Homo sapiens: one gene and its partners. The protein of the gene in region 3 interacts with the protein of the main gene of each other region in a pairwise test. Each region holds a gene or a part of one and is shown on either strand. Other genes may lie near its edges.

What was found. The genes of interacting proteins can lie anywhere in the genome.
Region 1: the proteins of KRT15 (region 3) and TCHP interact in binary tests that used the Homo sapiens proteins (3 or more experiments, as listed by UniProt).
Region 2: the proteins of KRT15 (region 3) and PPP1R18 interact in binary tests that used the Homo sapiens proteins (3 or more experiments, as listed by UniProt).

The regions. Positions count from the first base shown.
Region 1 is NC_000012.12:109,910,274-109,917,534, reverse strand, and holds part of TCHP (trichoplein keratin filament-binding protein), read right to left. Parts: intron 6,473-7,261; coding exon 6,300-6,472; intron 4,545-6,299; coding exon 4,463-4,544; intron 3,094-4,462; coding exon 2,908-3,093; intron 2,133-2,907; coding exon 1,989-2,132; intron 945-1,988; coding exon 912-944; 3' UTR 1-911. UniProt on the Homo sapiens protein: Tumor suppressor which has the ability to inhibit cell growth and be pro-apoptotic during cell stress. Inhibits cell growth in bladder and prostate cancer cells by a down-regulation of HSPB1 by inhibiting its phosphorylation.
Region 2 is NC_000006.12:30,683,385-30,690,863, reverse strand, and holds the start of PPP1R18 (phostensin), read left to right. Parts: upstream 1-4,218; 5' UTR 4,219-4,817; coding exon of another isoform or gene 4,818-4,845; coding exon 4,846-6,456; intron 6,457-7,479. Other genes in the region: NRM (nurim), read left to right, coding at 1-22, 621-817, 1,394-1,588, 1,922-2,203.
Region 3 is NC_000017.11:41,515,725-41,523,879, forward strand, and holds the start of KRT15 (keratin, type I cytoskeletal 15), read right to left. Parts: upstream 3,167-8,155; 5' UTR 3,104-3,166; coding exon 2,606-3,103; intron 1,494-2,605; exon of another isoform or gene 1,442-1,493; coding exon 1,359-1,441; intron 1,241-1,358; coding exon 1,084-1,240; intron 563-1,083; coding exon of another isoform or gene 542-562; coding exon 380-541; intron 287-379; coding exon 161-286; intron 1-160. Other genes in the region: KRT19 (keratin, type I cytoskeletal 19), read right to left, coding at 8,019-8,155.

The sequences.
Region 1 (7,261 bases), on a different chromosome or scaffold from region 3:
GACATTCCCAATGTGTCCTACGTGTCACGCCCCTGCCTTTAAAAGGTTAGCCAACCAGGTGACCTTCTAAGGTACCTTTTTGGTTTTAGAGATGGGGTCTCACTCTTTTGCCCAGGTTGGACTCGAACTCCTGGGCTCAAGCAATCCTCTTGCCGCAGCCTCCCGGGTAGCTGGGACTAAAGGCACGTGCCACCACACCCAGTTTGAAGTTCGTTTTGGGGCTTAGTAACATACATGTTGGGATCAGTCACTCACAGACAATGCTCTATGGAAATTCTACCAAAATGCTTCCTGGAGGAGGAAAGACTCATCTCTTGCCACTTTTCTGGAATGCGTCCATGGACGTCAGAGTGTTCCGGGGTTCTAATTTGTTCACAGTTCTTTTCTTCCAGAATATAAAAGATGTAATACTTTTGGGACCACTAAATTAATAAACTCTGAAATCAACTGCACCAAGACCTCTAGGTTTGTTTTTAATAGACTAAATTTAAATGGCAATTTTAAAAACTGAAAAGCTTTCCTCATATTTCTAGAGTCAACACTGGAGGTTGACAATTAAAGGTGAGACAACAGGAAACCACACGCCCCATCACAGGTACAACCTGTGGCTCTTAGTATTGACCTTCAGTTGATGTGACTGTTAATATATTACAAGACTATGCAGCAGCGCTGTAAACACGTGCCCATCAAAGACCCTTGCTTGGGTAAGAAAGGCATGAAAGGGACTCTCACGACACCTTAATGTCTGGCCAAACACTGGGATGTTTCAATGATGAACCTGAGCAGGCACTGCTGAGCCATCTGACAGTGCCCCGGGCACTTACTGTTAACAGAGCCCTGTAAAACTGCCTGGCGGCTGGGATCAGAAGCCTCAGCATCCCTTGTTCTCTGTACTTATGGTACCCATGAAGTCAGTTCCAAGCAATTTTTGGATGTCCGTAAGGCTGAGAAAAGAAAGAAAACATAAGAGTGATCAGATCAGCAGTATCTGCAGCATGAGGAATTAACCTTGTTTTAACTACAAGCTAAAAGAACAATATAAATGGCTGTTTCATTTCCAGCTGAAAAAATCTGACCCTAAGCCATAAATGAGGCACTTGATATCTTTTTGGTTTTGAGTACTAGCCCTAAGAAACACTTTCACATATGATCTGTGAAACCCTGACCCTGACACTCTCACTGATCCACGGCCAAGTGGGTTTAGGAAATGCTGTTCCCTGTGACTGTGACAGTCAGTGTTTGAGGGCGAGTGGCCTATGGCAAACGCAGCACCTGCTCTAATTATGTTTCACTCAGTTTCCCAGTGTCATCTGACCACAAGGGAGCCAGCCCTCATTCTGCAGCATGTGTCCTGGGGAATGCACTCTAGGCACCGGGTGGCCAGGGTGGCCCTAGGTAAAGGAGGGCAGAGGGGACAAGCCAGCAGTGGAGGTGCTTCAGTCATCAGCTTCCTCAGGGCAGGGAAGGCAGCATTTGCTTCTCTGTGCTCCCCATGGTGCTGTGCAGACAGGTCCGGGAACAAAGACACTGAGAGGCAGAGAAACAGATACACACACGGGAGGGAGGGGAGGAAGAGGACACCCACAGGAGGGAGGGAGGGGAGGTGAGGAGGAGGACTGGTCTCTTGTTCATCGGGCTTCACTGTCTCAACAGTTGAGGCCTAGATCTACTGCTCTGACCCCTCTCAGCAGCTGTGGCCACAGCTCTTCTTAGATTGACCAAAGAGGGTGGACAGGCATGCAGCTTAGTAGGCAAGGCCAGAGCAAAATCACTTCAAGGTTTGAGGCCCAACCAAGGACTGGAACAGCCCCTGTGTCAGGGCTCCCTGCTGGTCAGGGAAGAGAGAAATACAAGAGAAGAGAAACAAGGAATAACCCGGACGGCCGGAGAGCAGACCCCGGCGCGGGGCGATGAGCAGGCCCAGGGGAGCAGGGGCCGGGCAGAGTCTGTCTTGCCGGTGTTGGCCTATATCCTGGCAGACTTCCTACCTTAGGCCGGTAGCCCTGCTCAGCCATAGTCTCCGCCTCCTGCTGCAGCAGGGCATCTGAGAGCTGCTCGACCCGCCGGGCCTCCTCCTCTTCCTCCTCCTCCTGCTGGTCTGCTTCCCATGCCTGCAGCCGGCGCTCTGCAACCTGAGTGCCAAGAGCAAAGTCACCACCCCAAGACAAGGCCCACAGGGCAGAGCCCTGCCTCTGATGAGGAAGGTAAGCCTGCGGCCCTACCCAGACTGGAGAATCCAGCTGAGCAACAGCAATGCACGTGCCAAGGAACGGAAGGGAGCATGCGGGACTTGAAAGGCTGTATGCATGGTGTGTACCTCATAGAAAGCTGGAGAGGCTGTATGCGTGGCGCTTACCTCGTGGAAAGCTGGAGAGGCTGTATGCGTGGCGTGTACCTCGTGGAAAGCTGGAGAGGCTGTATGCATTGTGTGTACCTGGTAGAAAGCTGGAGAGGCTGTATGCATGGCATGTACCTCGTAGAAAGCTGGAGAGGCTGTATGCGTGGCGTGTACCTCATGGAAAGCTGGAGAGGCTATACATATGCGTGGCGTGTACCTCGTGAAAAGCTCGGCCTGTGGCCAGGTGTTTGGAGGACTGTTCTGTCTTATGTATCAGGGACTGAAATGAAGAGAGATCTATGGCCCCCGGTAAGCCAACTGCTTGCAGAAGCAGACAGAGTAAAGAGAACAGACAGCAGTACCGGCCTCACCCACACGACATGGAGGATGTGGAGGGAAAGAAGCCACAGTCAAGAGGATGAGGACTGCAGCTGGGATGGAAACGGGAGCACCGTGCTCTCAAACGTGCGCAAGCCCTGCCAGGCAGTCCAGCGGCTCTGAACCCTGTCCCATGATGATGCAGAGAACCTGGCAGGCCCGGTGCCTCCCGCCCTTGGGCTCAGCCCTACCTGGGCTTCCAGCTCCTGCTTCCTGGCCGATTTCAGCTTTTCACTCTCCTCTTTCTCGCGACGAGCCAACTCTCTCACCTCCTCAAGATTTCGAATAAGTTGCTCCCTGTGTTTCAGGGATTCCTCTTGTGCCCGTCGGTTCTGCTCAATCTTCTCTTGTATTTGCTGTTGTCTCCCTGTCAGAACCTAACCTCAGCAGAAAGAAAAGGGCAGCTTTGAGGTTGACCCTAACAGATCCTGGTTCTACAAGCCTTGGACAGGCTGCAGCCACAGCAAGGCCCAGCCTCATCCTTGGGCCTCAGGCCCAGGTACGCAGAGGCAGAGCCAGATGACAGGATTTGCTCTCACGATGTCGGCCACGCTTGCCAGTATACAAGAAATGTTTCCCTCGCAACCCAAGACACACAAAATGTATCCAGACTGTGTACTATGGAGAGACAGCTGAGTGCCAAAGAAATCAAAGGAGATGGGGATGGAGCTGTCTCCCCGGGGCCAGAGAAACCTTGGAGCAACAAGGTGAGTCTCCTTCCTATCAGCGGGTTCCAAAAACAAGAGAGCCACAAGCCACACAGATGACCAGAGGTGGAGCTGGGGTGGTCCTCTAACCTTTTGAACCTGCTGTGTTTGAGACCTGGCCCCAGAGCCGTGTGACATCTGAACTCCAGCCCAGGCCACAGTCAGGAGCAGAAAACCACCTGACACTCTCAACAGTTAGGCTGCAGGGCTGGGGGGAACAGAAAGTGGCCGCCATCAGGAGGGAAATTTAAATGAGGAAAATCAAAAGGCACTGGAGAATTCTTGGTATTTACAAGAGCAAAACATCACCAATCACGACCCAATTTCCTGTGGATTCCAAAATACAGCATACTACCAGACACAACGTAGAGTTTCTCATTTGAAACCACTTTACAACAGCTTTCAGCCCATGGGTAACACTCTCTCTTCTCCTCCCAGATTTCTCTGCGGTTGGGGTATATCTTCCACGCACAGTGTACACACTGACCAGGAAAGCAGTTATGTCCTCCAGGTCACGGCTGTCATCTACCCCGAGGGGGGAAACGTGTGGGAAGAGCCTCAGGCACCAAGAGGCTCTCTGCAGCGTTTCTCAGAATGGCTTCCAATTAGAACAACACAGCACACCCATAAGAGGGAATGGAAAGGCAGCGGGTGACAGAGGACAGTCCGTGATACAGCCCCTGACATGCCGTTTATAAAGATGTAACAGCATGTCACAACGCTTGAAGCCAAATAGCACAAGACAGTAAGAAATACATGTAGAAAAAATGTCAGGCATAGAAACAGAAGAGCAGACAGAAGCAGCAGCTACGGCTGCATACAGGATGGGCTCTGGGGGACTTTTTTCCATTTCTACTTCCTGTACTTCTGAATTCTTTTCTACTAAGCTCATATTACTTTTTCAATGATTTTTAAAGCCCACTTAAAATGACCAGAGAAGACTCTGTTCCCAGAGCATCTGGCAGGGTGACTGACCATGGACTTCCAGACACCTGCCCAAGACCCAACAGCCGGTCCACATCGCCGCAGCTGGGATTACCTCGCTCATCAGTCTGTCCCGTGCGCTGCGCTCTCGGGCCCACTCTGCCTCTCTCTTTTCCCACATCTCCTTGGCCTCCTCCCTGGGCAAACACAAAAGGGATGACAGCAGGCTCCTCCCCGCCCTGGCAGGAAGCGAGCTACGGAACAGACAGGGCTGCAGGGCACATGGCTTCTGCAGGACCACACTGCAGATAAACATCCACATGCACTTTGAAAAGATTACAATTAAGGACAGCATCCACGGAAAGTACTGTTGGAAGTTTTTCATTTTTTTTATTTTTGAGATGGGTCTCGCTCTGTTGCCCAGGCTAGAGTGCAGTGGTGCGATCTCGGCTCACTGCAACCTCCACCTCCCAGGTTCAATCGATTCTAGTACCTCAGTCTCCTGAGTAGCTGGGATTACAGGCATGTGCCACCATGTCTGGCCAATTACTGTATTTTTAGTAGAGACAGGGTTTCACCATGTTGGTCAGGCTGGTCTTGAACTCCTGATCTCAAGTGATCTACCTGCTTTGGCCTCCCAAAGTGCTGGGATTACAAGCGTGAGCCACCGTGCCTGGCCCTGTTGGAAGTATTTTAAGTTACCCTTTTAATACCCCATCTCCTTATAAAAAGGAATTGGGATGACTTACACCGTGGCTGTTTAACACAGAGATGAATGAAACCATCAGAACATGGAGAGGAGGGCGCTGCCTGTGCCTGAACCCTGCCACCGCATGCCTGTGTCACTGATAGCTCACCCTGGACGGAGTGACCTCTTCAAGTCTCCGGGTCTCACAAGCCACCACTTGGCTGGATGTCAGGACTCAGTAAGATGAGGCCTGTAAAGCACCCGGCACAGTGTCCAGCATGCAGTAAGTGCTCAATGTATGCTACTTATTATTTGATGATTTCAATCTACTAGTTTAGTCTTTAGGACCCAAACTCAGTTTTATAGATGTAAGCAGCATTCAACATCTCTATAATAACTTCCTTCTGGCTGGGCATAGTGGCTCACGCCTGTAATCCCAGCACTTTGGGAGGCCAACGCTGGCGGATCACAAGGTCAGGAGTTCAAGACCAGCCTGGCCAAGATGGTGAAACCCCATCTCTACTAAAAATACAAAAAGTAGCCGGGTGTGGTGGCGGGCGCCTGTAATCCCAGCTACTCGGGAGGCTGAGGCAGAGAATTACTTGAACCCAGGAGGCAGAGATTGCAGTCAGCCGAGATCATGCCACTGCACTCCAGCCTGGGTGACAGAGCAAGACTCTATCTCAAAAAAAAAAAAATAATTTCCTTCTAAACCTCTAAGATTTCAGATGAACACATCGTTACTCTAAACCTTAATGATTTCCACCTCAGATAATACAAGGGAAACACCCCCAGAGGCCAGGTCCATTATGAAGATGTGCTCCTCAGGAATGATGGACAACATACACAGCTATCTCTTCTTCTTCTTTTTTTTTTTTTTTTTTTTTTGAGACAGAGTCTCGTTCTGTCACCCAGGCTGGAGTGCAGTGGTGTAGTCATGGCTAATCGGAGCCCCAACCTCCTGGGCTCAAGTGATCCTCCCACTTAGCCTCCCGAGTAGTTGGAACTACAGGTATGAACAACCACGCCTGGCCAATTTGTGTATTTTTGGTAGAGCCTGGAGTTTTGCCATGTTGCCCAGGCTGATCTCAAATTCCTAGGCTCAAGCGATCCACCTGCCTCGGCCTCTCAAAGTGCTAGGATTACAGGTGTGAGCCTCCACGCCCAGCCAATAGATATTTCAGTAACAGGTGACCCATGGGGCATTTCAAGGTATCAGAGTTGAGGCCAGGAGCATCCAGCCCAGTCAGCAGCTGCCACTCACCTCAGCAGCATCTGCAGCTCTGCCTCCCGCGCCCGCTCCAGCTGCAGCTGCTCCTCAATGGCCTGCTTCATCCAGGCCACATCGGCCATGACCTGCTCCCGCCTGGCCAGGTGGAGGCGCTGGCTCTCGTCCTCCTTCTCGAGGAGGGCCTGCAGGATCCGCCTGTCTGCCTCCTAGAGGAAGCAGAGGGCGGCACGTGGCTGGGCTGGACAGAGTCCTTCTGCAATGAGAGCCTACAGAGGGGCCTGCCCTCCCTTTCCTTTCTACATAGACATTCGTGATTCTACACAGTGTTCTCAAGACAGAGATGGGAAGATCCTGGATTATTTCTGGAACAGACTGGGGATAATCACGAGGGGTGGTTCAGACACTGCACAGGCCTAGGAGCTTCTCTCTGGCTAAAGGGAGACCCAGCCACCACCACATGCCCTCGGATACACCTGGTTGCACAACTTTTTGGAATACAACTTGGCAAAAATCCCACTTATAAGAACAAAGACCACAGTGACACAAAAGTGCAAAACACTCGTTGCAGCTTTTAGGTAAGAGGGAAAAACCAGAAACAACCAAAATGCTCCTTGGTGGGGAATTAGCTACTATGTACATCAACATAATGGAAGCATTAAAATAATGCAGGAGGCTGGGCACTGGGGCTAATGCATGCAATCCCAGCACTTTGGGAGGCTGAGGTGGGAGGATCACTTGGGCCTAGGAGTTCAAGACCAGCCTGGGCAATGTAGCAAGACCCCATCTCTACAAAGCATTGTGATGTACACCTATGGTCCCAGCTACTCGAGAGGCTGAGGTGGGAGGATGGCTTGAGCCTGGCAGGTTGAGGCTGCAGTGAGCCGTGATTGCGCCATTGCAATCCAGCCTGGACAACAGAGCAAGACCCCATAAAAAACAGCTGCACACCAGGACCAACCATGCCACTGTGCCCCATGTCCTGCCCTGACCGCAGT
Region 2 (7,479 bases), on a different chromosome or scaffold from region 3:
ATCCCGGAGTCTGGTGGTCCGGGTGAGCGGGAGGGATCGAGGATGAACTGGGAGGAGGAAGGTGGAGCCGTAGGAGAGGGATTGAGGGCGGGGCTTGGAAACAAATGACAGGGGAAGTCCAAGAGAGGGAACTCGAACCTTGAAAGCGGCCGAGAAGCTACAGGGGAGGGAGACCTGAGTTCTAAATTAGGAACTCAAGGATTAGAGTTTTGGAGAGGCGGGAGAGTGAGGACTGAGGGAGCCGAAAAGGGCGGTGACCGGAGTATTCTAAGTAAAGTGTTTTGTAGAGAGGACTGTTGAGAGGAGAGTGTTAAAAAGAAGGAGCATTTGGAGAACCGAAGTAAGAGGGGCAATCCAGCGTGGCCTCTCCAGCCATGCTTTTTGCAACTGCCTAACATGTGGTGTTCTATAAATCCTCTTCCCCAGGTTTGCAGGAGGCCTAGGGAAGAGGGCAGAAACTAGGGATGGAAAAGTGAGATGGGCACAGCCTAGAGAGGAAGCATTAAGGCTCTTGAAAGCAGTAAGGGACATGGCCTGGGGATCCAAGAGGAGATGAGGGTGGGGGAAACATTCTGCCACTGTTTCGATCTTTTGTCTCTTTTTCCCTCAACTTCCTGTAGATGCCCGCCAGGGATGGCTGGCTGCCCTGCAGGACCGCAGCATCCTTGCCCCCCTGGCATGGGATCTGGGGCTCCTGCTTCTATTTGTTGGGCAGCACAGCCTCATGGCAGCTGAAAGAGTGAAGGCATGGACATCCCGGTACTTTGGGGTCCTTCAGAGGTCACTGTATGTGGCCTGCACTGCCCTGGCCTTGCAGGTATGAGGCCCTGGCCTTGCAGGTATGAAATCCTGGCAGTTGAGTCCCCAAGGGAGACCAAGTGTGGGAGGGGTGCCGTGGATTGGAGGGGCAAAATATGGGTTCAGGAGGAGAATTGAGGAACTAATCTCAGCTTCCATTCCTCCACAGCACATATCCTACTTTTTATCAAGAAGGGTGTACTTGTCCTTCCCTAAGCACAAGATATGCTTCTCACCTCTGCAACTTTGTTTATGTCCTGCTTGAGATCCCTTCTCTTCAGTCCTACCCTTTCTTCAAAACCACTTCCCTAGGTCTGAAGAGAAGGCCTTGTCTGTCTTTTCACTGGGTGGTTGGCACAGGCTACTACTTTGCGTAGCTATCAGGTCACCCCATCTATTCTATAAGTTCTCAGGGTAGAGACAGGCCATCCTTACATCTTTGGGACCTCACCCAGCACGCACCCTCCACATGGTGAATATTTGGTGGTGATGCTTAGGAGAGAGGTGGGGGAGAGTTGCAGGCTAGCCTGTGGTGGGGGCAGATCTGGGTCTGGGTCTCCCAAGGTCGGGCAGACTAGGCCACTGGGATACCCAGCCCCTTATCCTTCCACAGCTGGTGATGCGGTACTGGGAGCCCATACCCAAAGGCCCTGTGTTGTGGGAGGCTCGGGCTGAGCCATGGGCCACCTGGGTGCCGCTCCTCTGCTTTGTGCTCCATGTCATCTCCTGGCTCCTCATCTTTAGCATCCTTCTCGTCTTTGACTATGCTGAGCTCATGGGCCTCAAACAGGTGAGGCTCCGAGATCCCTACCTATGACCTCTGACCCATTTTAGAACTCCTCGTTCCCTTTCAAGGGTTTCCCTCCTCCCATGCTCTTCTACTGTCTCCCTGCTTCTCCCTCGTGGCCCTTCCCTTTGACTTTCCCTCGTAAGGGCAGCAAGCATGGGCCTCCTGGGCCTGGGGAAGGTACATGGATCAGAAGTCAGGATCAGGGATCCAAGTCTCAGAAGGGGGGTTCCTGGGCCTGAGTTCTAGAAGGGTGGTGCCTGGAAGAGGAGGAAAGAAGTGCCCAAGATGAGAAAAGGGCTTGACTCCATTTCTAAGCTCTTCTCCCTCTCTTAGGTATACTACCATGTGCTGGGGCTGGGCGAGCCTCTGGCCCTGAAGTCTCCCCGGGCTCTCAGACTCTTCTCCCACCTGCGCCACCCAGTGTGTGTGGAGCTGCTGACAGTGCTGTGGGTGGTGCCTACCCTGGGCACGGACCGTCTCCTCCTTGCTTTCCTCCTTACCCTCTACCTGGGCCTGGCTCACGGGCTTGATCAGCAAGACCTCCGCTACCTCCGGGCCCAGCTACAAAGAAAACTCCACCTGCTCTCTCGGCCCCAGGATGGGGAGGCAGAGTGAGGAGCTCACTCTGGTTACAAGCCCTGTTCTTCCTCTCCCACTGAATTCTAAATCCTTAACATCCAGGCCCTGGCTGCTTCATGCCAGAGGCCCAAATCCATGGACTGAAGGAGATGCCCCTTCTACTACTTGAGACTTTATTCTCTGGGTCCAGCTCCATACCCTAAATTCTGAGTTTCAGCCACTGAACTCCAAGGTCCACTTCTCACCAGCAAGGAAGAGTGGGGTATGGAAGTCATCTGTCCCTTCACTGTTTAGAGCATGACACTCTCCCCCTCAACAGCCTCCTGAGAAGGAAAGGATCTGCCCTGACCACTCCCCTGGCACTGTTACTTGCCTCTGCGCCTCAGGGGTCCCCTTCTGCACCGCTGGCTTCCACTCCAAGAAGGTGGACCAGGGTCTGCAAGTTCAACGGTCATAGCTGTCCCTCCAGGCCCCAACCTTGCCTCACCACTCCCGGCCCTAGTCTCTGCACCTCCTTAGGCCCTGCCTCTGGGCTCAGACCCCAACCTAGTCAAGGGGATTCTCCTGCTCTTAACTCGATGACTTGGGGCTCCCTGCTCTCCCGAGGAAGATGCTCTGCAGGAAAATAAAAGTCAGCCTTTTTCTACATATGGCATGCAGTCTGTCAGTGTCTCCCAAGCTACAGGGCTGAGTTTGGGAAAGAAAGCCAGAGGGAGCCTGGGAGCACCGAACTGGAGTCTGGGCAGCCACCACGCCCTCTGGCAACCGCTGGGGTTCGGCCACCCCCGCAGACCCGCCCCCACTTTGCCAGAGCGGCCGGGTCCCCATTCCCATTCCTTCAAATCCCCTTTTTCCCGGCAGCCGACCTGTAGACCCAAGGGAGACAGGTTGAAGCTAGAAAGAGTCGGGGCAGCAGCTCTGGTAGGGGAGGGAGCATCCAAAACCTCTGGCTTCTGAGCGCCTCTCCTGCCGCCCATCCACAAAGCCCCCCACAGCCTGGCGGCTGCCCTCGACCCCGCAAAACAAAGGACTTCAGAGGCTGGACCTACAGACCCAGATGAGAAGGCAAAAGCGTAGGGAGGAGCGGCAGGAGATGGGAAGGGCGGGCCCCGCTCGGAGCAGCTGCCGCTTCCTCCCAAAGTCCCACGAGGGGCCTGAGTCACGGGCCACCGCCCTGGGTCGGCGAGCTGGGGGAAGGGATCTGGACACCTGGCGTGTCCGGGCGGGAAGCTGGTGAGGGCCCCTGGGGACAGAGCGGAGGACCAGTGGTTGGGGCGAGAAGAGGGCAGTCCCGCAGCGAGTCCCACGCGGGGTGGGAGGGATCTAGGCCCCGCCCTCTCCTCGGCTCCGCCCTGCGCCCCCTTCCCTCTCCTCATTGTCCTTAGACAAAGCGGTCGCCGCCCCCGCCCGGCCCCCTGGTCTCTGTCTCCGTCCCTCCTCCTTTGCTGCCTCTTTCCCTCCTCCTCTCCCTCCCTCCTCCCCTCCCTCCAGTCTCCGGATCTCCCTCGGTCCCTCTCTCCTCCTCTTCCTCTCTCTGGACGCCCGGCTCCTCCGCACCCCCTCCCCCGGGGGTCCCGCGGCCTGTGAGTTGACTGAGGGGCTCAGACTTGGGGAGTGGGTGTCTCCTCGCCCCTGTCCTTGCTCCCGTCCCTGGCCCGGACCTTGGCTGTCTCCTCTTTGTGCCGAGATTGTCAGTCTGTGCGGCTACAGCGGGGTGGAGACGGCCGGCTCTGTCACGGCTTCATGAGAGCGGGGACGGGGCGCAGGACTTGCAGGCGCCGGGGAGAAGAGACATGGAGCCGGCCCTTGGCACTCTGGGGTCGCGTGGGGCAGTCGGTGGGGGAGGCAGGCGGTGGTGACAGGACAGGGTGGGGGTGGACGCCAGGGTTCTGGGAACGCGCTGGCAGCCCTGACGCCCGGGTTCCGAAAGTCTCGGGGGTGGCTATTTCCCCCGACCCGCCTCGGGGGCGGAGTGCGGGGCAGAGGGGTGGGGGCTGGGGAGAGGCGTGGCCCGAGCGGTGCTGGAAGCGGAGCCGGGACCTTTGGGGCCCGCGCTGAGACGCGCCCGGCTGCTGCCGCCGCCCTCCTTTCCCCTCTTCCCTGGTTTCCCTTCTCCTCTAGACCTGTTCGCTCTCCGCCCCTCCTTGCCTCCCCAACACCCCCTCAGGTCCCGTTGCCTCCTGGTCCTTTCAGGGATTCCTGGTCCTTCCTTCCCACACTAGCCTCCCTGGGGTATCGCTGAGGCAGCCTGGCCTGCACCCAGGTTCCCCTCACCCCTGCCACATTTCTCTCTTCTCCCTCACGCCAACTTTCCTTTTCGCCCTTCTCTCTCTTTCTCACATCCTAGAGACGGTCTTTAATACGCATTAACCCTGTGCTGCCACATCTGGCTCCTGCCCTCATTGCCTCCAATCCGGACTCTTCCTCTCACATCACCCCCACCACCCCCAACTTGGGCTCACAACTTCTCTTCACTTTTTCCATTTCCCCAGTTCTCTGCCTTCCGTCTTTCCCTCTGTCCTCATCCTTAGCCCCTCTGCCCTGCTTTGTGTCCCACCTCTCCCCCTCCACTTCCTCTCCTCCCACCCTCAGTCTCACCCCCGGGCTGTCTCACTCTCTGGAGCCTCTCCTTCCTGTTCTCTGTCCCCAGTGCTCCCTACCCTCACCTCAAGACGACCATGGCCACCATCCCAGACTGGAAGCTACAGCTGCTAGCCCGGCGCCGGCAGGAGGAGGCGTCCGTTCGAGGCCGAGAGAAAGCAGAACGGGAGCGCCTGTCCCAGATGCCAGCCTGGAAACGAGGGCTCCTGGAGCGCCGCCGGGCCAAGCTTGGGCTGTCCCCTGGGGAGCCTAGCCCTGTGCTAGGGACTGTAGAGGCTGGACCTCCAGACCCGGATGAGTCTGCGGTCCTTCTGGAGGCCATCGGGCCAGTGCACCAGAACCGATTCATCCGGCAGGAGCGGCAGCAGCAGCAGCAGCAACAACAACGGAGTGAAGAGCTGCTAGCAGAGAGAAAGCCTGGGCCTCTGGAGGCCCGGGAGCGGAGACCCAGCCCTGGGGAGATGCGGGATCAGAGCCCCAAGGGAAGAGAGTCAAGAGAAGAGAGACTAAGTCCGAGGGAGACCAGAGAGAGGAGGCTGGGGATAGGGGGAGCCCAAGAGTTGAGCCTGAGGCCTCTGGAGGCTCGGGACTGGAGGCAAAGCCCAGGAGAGGTGGGAGACAGGAGCTCCCGACTGTCAGAGGCATGGAAATGGAGGCTGAGTCCTGGAGAAACTCCAGAGCGGAGTCTGAGACTAGCAGAGTCTCGAGAGCAAAGCCCCAGGAGAAAAGAGGTGGAAAGTAGACTGAGCCCAGGGGAATCTGCCTACCAGAAGTTGGGCCTGACAGAGGCCCATAAATGGAGACCTGACTCCAGAGAGTCTCAGGAACAGAGTTTGGTACAACTGGAGGCAACAGAGTGGAGGCTGAGGTCAGGAGAAGAAAGACAAGACTACTCGGAAGAATGTGGGAGAAAAGAAGAGTGGCCAGTTCCAGGGGTAGCTCCAAAAGAGACTGCAGAGCTGTCCGAGACCCTGACAAGGGAGGCCCAAGGCAACAGTTCCGCAGGAGTGGAGGCAGCAGAGCAGAGGCCTGTGGAAGATGGCGAGAGGGGCATGAAGCCAACAGAAGGGTGGAAATGGACCCTGAACTCCGGGAAGGCTCGAGAATGGACACCCAGGGACATAGAGGCTCAAACTCAGAAACCAGAACCTCCAGAGTCAGCAGAGAAGCTTCTGGAATCTCCCGGTGTGGAGGCTGGAGAAGGGGAGGCTGAGAAGGAGGAGGCGGGGGCTCAGGGCAGGCCTCTGAGAGCCCTGCAGAACTGCTGCTCTGTGCCCTCCCCCCTCCCACCAGAGGACGCTGGGACTGGAGGCCTGAGACAGCAGGAAGAGGAAGCAGTGGAGCTCCAGCCCCCACCACCAGCCCCTCTGTCTCCCCCACCCCCAGCCCCAACTGCCCCCCAACCTCCTGGGGATCCCCTCATGAGCCGCCTGTTCTATGGGGTGAAGGCAGGGCCAGGGGTGGGGGCCCCCCGCCGCAGTGGACACACCTTCACCGTCAACCCCCGGCGGTCTGTGCCCCCTGCGACCCCAGCCACCCCAACCTCTCCAGCCACAGTTGATGCTGCAGTCCCGGGGGCTGGGAAGAAGCGGTACCCAACTGCCGAGGAGATCTTGGTTCTGGGGGGCTACCTCCGTCTCAGCCGCAGCTGCCTTGCCAAGGGGTCCCCCGAAAGACACCACAAACAGGTAGGGAAGCAGCCAAGCCAGACTTCTTAGAAGTCCACTTGTCAATTTTCTCTGGACTCTGGTCTCTTTCTTTTTTATACCCCTGTTTTCTTGTCTTCCTCTATTCTTTCTTGTTAATTCCTGCCACCACCCTTCCTCGCTCTGCACATACACCCTTCCTTCTCAGAGCCCTCCTTTTCCATTTTGAGCCCAAAAGATCCTGCCCCAGCAAAGGCTGTCTCTGGGTGTGTCTCTTTCAGGGTGTGCCAGGCTGCTCATTCTCCCTTCCCTTGGGCTCTGAGTTTCCAACCCCCTTTTCTTTCCTTCCTTTCCTGAGTGTGACCTGCCCCAGCCCATCCAGTGGGAGAGCCTAAAGTGACGAGCTTGAATCAGTGAGGGCAGGGTCACCAGGGTGAGAGCACTTGCAGTTTTTCTGGGGAGAAGGGATAGGGAGCCTGGGGTGGTGGAGGGGGTGGGGTGGGTTTGTGTTCTAGGGAGAAACTGCAGGGAGAAGTGAATGGAGAAAGGTCCAACTGCCCCGTGGGAAGGAGGGCAGAGCTGAATAGGGACATCCTAGGATGGAGGGGAGAGGGGAGATGGAACCGGGCCGGCCAAAGATCAGAGAGAAGGCTTTTGAACCCCGAGTCTGCCCCATGGGAGAGACACAGAGAGGCCATTTGAAGTGGGTGACCTCGGGGTTGCACACCCCCAGCTGGGCCACTGCTTCAGACAGTGCTCCCTTCTCTCTTGGGACAAGAAAAGCCTTCTCCTCTTCCAAAATACCCCCGCCCCTCACTCCCCTGTCCTTCCTCCCTGGGTTTCCCCTCCCTCCCAAGAACTGGCTCAGGGATCGGTTTTCCCCTCTTTTCCTGCCATCCTGGACTTTCCCTCCCCTTAGGGTAGCAAAAGAGAGAAGTGAATTTGGAGACAGTTTTGAGAACAGGCACTGGCCAGGGAGCACAGTGGGAGTTCTGGACAGGGGTTGGGGCTGAGGCCAGCAGAGGGTCAGAGGTTAGACTTGCAACAAAGACCTGCAGGAAAGTG
Region 3 (8,155 bases):
GCTAGAAAGGAAGCCACTGAGGGCAAGCAGGGAGGGGGCACTGAATGGAGTTCAGGGAACCACCTCTTGAGGGGGCTTGAGAACTCCAAGGCTTAAATAGCCAGGAAGAGTGGGAGCTTCTACCACCCGAGAGGCTGGGATGGGGCGCGAGTGGCCGTACCATGCTGAGCTGGGACTGCAGCTCGATCTCCAGCTCCTGCATCGTGCGTCTCAGGTCTGTGATCTCCGTCTTGCTGGTCTGGATCATTTCTGTGTTGGAGGCCACCTCTTTGTTCAGCTCCTCAGTCTGTAGGTCATGCACAACAGAAGTGAGCCCCGGGGCCTCCTCGGAGACTCAGGGACCTGGGGCAGGAAGGGCAGGGCAGGATATAAGGCCCACCTTGCTGAAGAACCAGGCCTCGACATCCCGGCGGTTCTTCTCCGCCATGGCCTCGTACTGCTCCCTCATCTCTGCCAGCACACGGGTCAGGTCCACACCCGGTGCTGCGTCCATCTCCACATTGACCTGGCCGGCCAGCTGGCTGCTGAACTCCTTCATCTCCTGCAGGATGGGAGGGACCCACTTAGAGACGGAGAGCAGAAGAGAGACCTGAGAGTCTGGCGTCACACATGCCAATCCTGGCTCTGCCCGTAACACACCCCAACCGCTGTTCCCCATTGCACATGAAGAGGTTTGGTCACATGGACCCCTCAGCTCTAAGGAGTTCTCTGCTGCTCTAGGTCCTACCAAGGGAGGACCCCGAGACTGTAGGGCCCTGATGTGAGCTCACAAAGCCAATCAGGAAGTCAACCATTCATACGGGCCACCTGGGCTGGCTGTGGGCCTGGGCTACCAGACACTGCCCCTTCCTCTCCATGAGGACACCTGGTTTTGTGGGGTAGGTGTGTTTCTGAACCACTAAGCCCCAGGCCAACTATGAGGAAGTACCAACAGCCCCACTCTGCCTCCCACTGACTTAATCTCGTGAAAATCTGGGAGGGCTTCCTGGAGCCACTGTCTTTCCCTCTGGGCAATTTAAGTGAGTTTTGGGAAGAGGTTCCCCACCTCTCTCGGGTTCAGGGGTGATGGGGGCCAGCTCTCACCTCTTCGTGGTTCTTCTTCAGGTAGGCTAGCTCCTCATTCAGGCCCTCGATCTGCATCTCCAGGTCAGTCCTGGCCAGGGTCAGCTCATCCAGGACTCGGCGCAAGCCGTTGATGTCAGCCTCAACGCCCTGGCGCAGGGCCAGCTCATTCTCATACCTGAGGAGAGGGAGGCCAAAGAAGGAAGTGGGAGGGGTCTTGGCTGCCTGAGTCAGAGCCAGGAGAAGGCCAAGTAAAGTGGGCAATGCAGGAAGAGGAGAGAGACGGGGGAGCGCACTTGAGCCTGAAGTCGTCCGCAGCCAGCCTGGCATTGTCGATCTCCAGGATGACCCGGGAGTTGTCGATGGTGGTGGCCATGATCTGCAGGAGACAGAGTCGGTGTCTAGAGGACTCCTCTCTCTCCCCTGCTGCTCTCTGCTCTGCACCCAAGGCCAGCCCCTCATTGAAAATCACCCCTCACTGACAATCACCCCTCTGACACCACCAACAAAAATCTGTACGGCTTCTGGGGTGGGCAAAGTCCAGCCTCACTTTCAGTGTCCATTTCTTGTTTTGTCCCATCCAGCCTCCTTGAGACACCTGAGGAGCTGCCTTCCTTATCTCCAGGGCACGAAAGACCAAGGAGGCAGTATTGCCTGTGGGAATTGGTTGCCCAGGAGAGTGGGGCAGTGGGGTGCAGCCAGCTCTGACAATAGCTCTCTCAGAGACACTCCACCAGCCCCACTGTGGACAACTCATGGTCACTGCCTCCTGCACACCTTGGACACAGCCATGGATCTACAGAACATTCCAGCCAGTAGCAACCTGGAGGGCAGTTAAGAAGGCATTTTACGAATGAGGAACCCAGTCTTAGGGAGTAAAATGGTGAGTGAGTGGGTGGCAGAATGTGTAATGAGTTCCCAGGTCTCCTAAGACCCAACAGTACTTTTGGCACAAAAGACCTCTTTATAGGAAAAGACAAGAGGTTCTAGCATCTGGAACTCATGAGGCCACACTCCAATCCCATTCTTGCAAAAGAGGTAAAGGAATACTTTATGCAGAAGCCTGCAGGGTGCATGAGGTAGGGAGGGCGAGTTGCTCTTTTTTTTTAATTATTTTTATTTAATTAGATACAGGTTCCACTCTGTCACCTAGGCCGGAGTGCAGTGGCACAGTCATAGCTCACTGCAGCCTCTAAATCCTGGACACGAGCAATCCTATCACCTTGGCCCCCCAAAGCACTGGGATTACAGGTGTGAGCTACTGCCTCTGGCTCTTTATAATTGCCCCCACCTGTGCCCCTGTTGGTCCTAACCAGATTCCCAAGACCCCTCTCTCCCTCCCCCAGCACCACCAAGTTGAGAAGATGTGCACTGGCCTCTGCACCTGGACAGCAGGTGCATTCCAAATTTGCTGAGATTACATACCAGACAGTCATTGCCTGGGCAGGAAAGGATTTCCTTGAGTCAGCAGTAACACTGACATTAGAGCTGTGTACAGGGTACCAGCCACCTGCTCCCCTCTCTTTGACATCCGAGGACTCACCTTGTCCCGGAGCTCTTCAATGGTCTTGAAGTATTGGCTGTAGTCGCATTCTGGGCTGGTTGGGGTCTGCTTCTGGTACCAGTCATGGATCTTCACCTCCAGGTCAGCATTGGCCTCCTCCAGGGCACGTACCTTGTCCAGGTAGGAGGCCAGGCGGTCATTGAGGTTCTGCATGGTAATTTTCTCATTGCCAGAGAGGAGACCACCATCGCCACCACCAAAGCCACCACCAAAACCCCCACCAACGCCCCCTCCAAAGCCTCCACCGAAAACACTACCAGCCCCTCCACCAAAGCCACAGACCCTCATGCCACCCCCATATCCTCCTCCTGACCCTGAAGAGACAAACCTAGCAGAAGAAGCTGAGATACTTCGGCTTCCACCTCCCCCAGAGAGACTCCCCCCACCAAAGCCACCTCCCCCAGCCAGGAGGGAACCCCCTCGGGTTGAGCCACCCCCAAAGGTGGAGGAAGAAGTTTGCAGAAATGTGGTGGTCATGGCCAGGTAGCTGGAGCCCGTGAGTTCTCAGCAAACCCAAGAGATGCTGGCAGGAGGTACCAGGCCAGGCTGCACGCTGGGGCTCCTTATATACCCTTCAGAGGGTGTTGTGGGACCTCGTCTCCTCCCCTAAAGCAAAGCCAACTCCTTCTGCCTTCCTGACAAACACAGCTGCCTGCACACCTTGAGTGGGTCATGTGAAGTTTTTCTCTTCTATTTTTTTTTAATGCAACAAAAGAGATGATTCAGAATTAATAGTGTTTTTCCCCAGGGCACGGTTTTAACACTTGGATTACAGGTTCATCTCTCCATGCCAGAAGAGAGCAGCAGGGAGCGAACTCTCATCACAGCACAGCTACCAAGGCCTCTGCCTGTACTGAGAGCAGCTCAGGCCAACTGTGCCCTCAGCTGGACTTCACTTCCCCGAGCCCTGAGCCTCTCCCCAAGAGGACAGCTCCGTGTTCTTAGTTTGGGAGTCCACTGGCCGATCATTATGCTGTGTTATCCAACTCAAAACCCTGTGAGTGAGTGAGTGAGTGAATGAGTGAGTGAGTGAGTGAGTGAGAGACTGCAGGGCTCAGGGAGAGTGGAGGCCCTGGGGATGGGAATGCAGGGCCCCTGGGGGCAGGTGGAGGACAGGAGCCAGGGACCTTGAGTAGTGTTCCAGCTGAGGTGACCAGAGGAGCCAGCATCCATCCCCTTACCTGGTGCTGCAGATGGACTCCCCTCCTCCCACCTCTACTCCCCTCCTGCCATCCTCCAGCCTGTGTTCCTGGCACCCTCACAAAAGCCCAGCAGGCTTGGGACTGACAAGGGGATGACTGATGATCCCGACACCTGCCAACTGCACGGCGCTGAACCTTTGCTCGTTTCTGGGATGTGTTGGGGCAAACCTCCGCTGATAAGGCTGGGGCAAGTTCCAGGAAGCCCCTGCCTTCTCCAGGAGAGGCATGTCGCTGCTTAGCAGGGCCAGATTAGCCCCCATCTGTCCTGTCAAGTGCTGGCTGGGGACGGGCCGCTGCAGAAGGCTCTATGTGCCTGAATGCTGTGGAAGGGAAGAGAAGGGAGACTGGCAGGCAGGCTGGAAGACACCGGAGATCTTGAAGACCAAGGCATTGCTTCACACAGACGGGGAGTTGAACACTCAGGAGAGCCCTTTTCTCTGCCACCAGCTCAGGGACACCTTTCCAGGGACACCTGATACCTGTGGGCAGTGCCACTTGGAGGTGTGGCTCAGCCCTCTGGACCTGGCCCCAGGGCTTACAGAAACTCAGGAGGAGGATTCCTAGCCCAGGTTGCAGCATGGTGAAGTGGACAGGGCTCTGGAGTCCCTCAGGCCCGGGTTTGAATCCTGGCTTTATCAATTATCATGGTAAGACTGTGAGGCCTGGGTTCAAATCCTGACCCTACCAATTACCATGGTAAGACTGTGGACATTTACCTTTTTAAGTCTCTGTTTCCCTGTGGCAAGGGGCGCTCTCAACTCTCACTTCCAGGGAAGCCCTGTGGCCCAAGAGCCCCCATCCTGCCCCCTCCTGGATCCCCACCCAGGTGCCAGACATGCAGGGGCCAGGGTGCATGACCGGCACCTGCGCCTGAGTGCCCTCACCAGGAGGGGCTTTGTCGTTGGGCATCAGAACATGCCCTGTGAGCCTGAGCATGTTCTTAGGCTCAACGGCATCGACCTTCCATAGCCAGCTCCTATGGGGCAACGCAGGTTGTTCTTAGGTTCTTATTTTGCTATAATAGCATAATCCTTTACTTCTACCCTGCACTTTGTGATTTACAAAGCACTTTTGCATCCATCACCTCCTCTCATCCTCACAACAGAGGGTGACCCCCACCCAAGATTCAGAAAGAATGAAATTGAAACTTGGAGAGGTGAAGCAACTTGTGCCAGGTGGCACCACTGGTAAGGGGCAAAGCCAGGACTCAAACAGGTCCTCACACCCTCAACCAAACAGGGCACAGGGAAAGAGTCCTTCCTGCAGACCCCAAATTCCTGCATCTGAGCTGGGCTGGCAAGGGGAACTGCCAGCCAGCAAGGCTGGGGGTGGGTTCCTTCTCATCCATCTTCGCAGTGAGCCTGGCCTCCAATGCTGGGCACAGACAGTGTGGTATTGTCTCATGGGTGGGAGGGTATTGTCTTTTCCTCCGAAAGAAAAATAATCAAACTCAGATCATCCAGAGCTCATTAAAAGCCTCTGCAGACATTGTGGCCCCAGCAATTAACTCAAGAACAATTACTCGCCTTTCACCCCAGGGTGAGGAAGGGCTGGACCCCAGCCAGATCCCCTTCTGCACCTGACTCTCCTCCAGCAGCCCCTCGAGGTGGCTTTCTCTATACTCTCAGGCCCAGGCCAGGGGCGGCAGCTGCCCCCCTCACTGCCCCACGCACAAATCCCTGGTTTCAGTCCAAACCGCTACTGTGAGCTCCAGATCTGGGTGGGGCCCGGAGCCTCCTCATTAGCACCAGGTGGGATGGCCTTGCGAAGATAAAGCTCTGTCTGGCCCCAGCCCAGGCTGTAGCCCCGGGCCCTGCCCCAGGCAGCCTGCCCAGGATGCTGTGCCAGTTTCTGACCTTTGCCCACTGCAGCCAGATGGGGCCATCTGTGGAGCTGGCCTTTTCTCCTTAGAATGAGGCAGTGCAGCCCAGTGGAAAGAGACTCAGCCTCTCTGAGCCTGGTTCCTGATTTAAACTTAGGCCATTAACACAGACTCCCCTCAGGGCCATAGTGAGCATTTGAGGGCACAAGGAGAATGAAGTCTCCAACAACCTTAGAACCCTCCCACACCTCTCCTGTTCCCCAGGGAAATGCCAGGGAGAGGGGGTGTGTCCTGGAGCCCAGAGACTTACCTTTAAACCCCTCTTTTCCCATTTACCAGCTGTGCGGCTTTGGGTAATGCCGCCTCCTCTCTCTGAGCCTTAGTCTACCAATCAGGAAAATGGAAATAACTCCAGCTCAGCCTGACTCTCAGTTGGAGCAAGATGACTCACAGGAAATGCTCAACAGACTGAAGTGGCCACGATGACCAGCAGGATGTAAAGGCACTCCCCTCAACTTCCCCACTCCCCTCTCCCTCCTATCCCAGGTCTCCAGGCTGAGACAGAAAAGTGTCCCCAGTCCAGCCCCACCCTGCACTGTGCACACACAAAGGCAGGCTTCATTCCTGACACTCAGGCCTGAGACCTGACAGTCACCTGCCCCACCTGTGTGGGCCCAGACCCCGCCCCGCAGCCACATTCCAGGGGCCCCTGAGGCAGAGGGAAGGTTTCAGCTGTGACAAGGGAGGCTTTCATGGGCAGGGACAAGCGCCTCTGGGCAGTCCCAGCTGGGGGTGCAGCCAGGCCTCTCCCTCCAGCTCCAAGGCTTCCTGAGAAGTTAAGTTGGGGGTGGTGGTTTGTGGGTGCTGGAGGCCAGAACAGGACAGCTAGGGAGGGGGCAGAAGGGGGTCCCAGTCCAGGCTACAGCAGCGGGGCTCTGGGGTTACATGTTCATAACCAACCTTGAAACAGCTCCTCCTTCGGGATTGCCATGGCCGTGATGGGGTCTCCAGCCTCCTTAGCAGGGTGCTGAGTACATTTGGCAGCATGCGGGCGTGGAACTAGTGTCCCTCACTTGCCCCCATCACTCATAGGGTTGGGCCTGCAGCCCTCACCTCTCCACCAGGAAGAAGTGGGACTTCTTTTGGGGCCTCTTCCTTACCTTGAATTGGCCTCAGTTCTTGGCAGCTGAGATGTAAACCACAGGAGCAGGGCCATACCTACCCAAGGGCAGAGTTGTACCAGGAAGCTGGGACTTCGTTCTTTTGCTGGCCCAGGGCAGGCCCCAGGCAAGCCAGGGTTGGGGTCTCTGTGGGAGGTCTGGGTCACTGCTGGGTCCCATTCTGGGCTCTGGGCCCAGGTATGGGCTGGTGGGCGTTAAAGGGCTTATGCAGGGCTGCCCCAAAAATGGGTGAATGTGTTAGTGCATGCACACACACAACACACACTGACAGGTACAGCCTCCCCAGCCTTGCTCCAAGCGGGATGCCTGGCCCCAAACCCCCAGTTTCAGTGAGGTGGAGAAATGTGTCGGGAGGAACTGCCCCTAGGGATCCCCGGCCTGAGCCTTCATAGGGCACAAGACTGGAATGTCAGCAAGACCGGCACAAGTGGCGTCAACTCCAGGAGACCACCTGGCAGGGGCTGGCACCATGGGCTAAGAATCAGGCAACTTAGGTTCTAGTCCTGGCTCTACCATGTAGTTGCTGTGTGGCCTTGGACAAGTTACTGAACCTCTCTGAGCCTATTTCCTGATCTATAACATGCAGCTCATACTACCTTTTAGGGCTGTTTTTAATTCAATGGCACATAGTAGGTGTTCAATAAACATTAATTTCACACAGATACCTCAACGCCCTGGGGAGTAGAGTAGAAAGAAAACTAAATCTAGAAGCAAAAACAATTTCAAATCCCACCTTTGCCATGCATTAGAGCAGTTACATATAGAAAAAAACACTTCACCTCTCTGAGCCTTAGTTTACTTTTGTAAAATGGAAGCAATGCTTATTTCATGAGGTTATTTTAAGGAACGGGTTAAATAAATGAAGACTTCTGTAAACAGGAATTACCATTACAGGCAAAGTATGTGAGTACCCTCCCCTCCCTTTCCTGGGACAGAGTGAACTTTGGTTCAAATAAAACCTAAACAGGGCCAAGGCAGGACCCATCTCTCCATGGGCTCAAATAACAAACCGAACGACCTATTCTCTCCATGGGCTGAAATAATAAACCAAACGTCCTTCCTCCCTTGGACCATAAATTTTTATTGGCAGGTCAGGAGAAGAGCCGGGGGTAAGGGTCCCTTCCTTCCCATCCCTCTACCCAGAAGACACCCTCCAAAGGACAGCAGAAGCCCCAGAGCCTGCTGCCTCAGAGGACCTTGGAGGCAGACAAATTGTTGTAGTGATCTTCCTGTCCCTCGAGCAGGCTGCGGTAGGTGGCAATCTCCTGCTCCAGCCGCGACTTGATGTCCATGAGCCGCTGGTACTCCTGATTCTGCCGCTCAC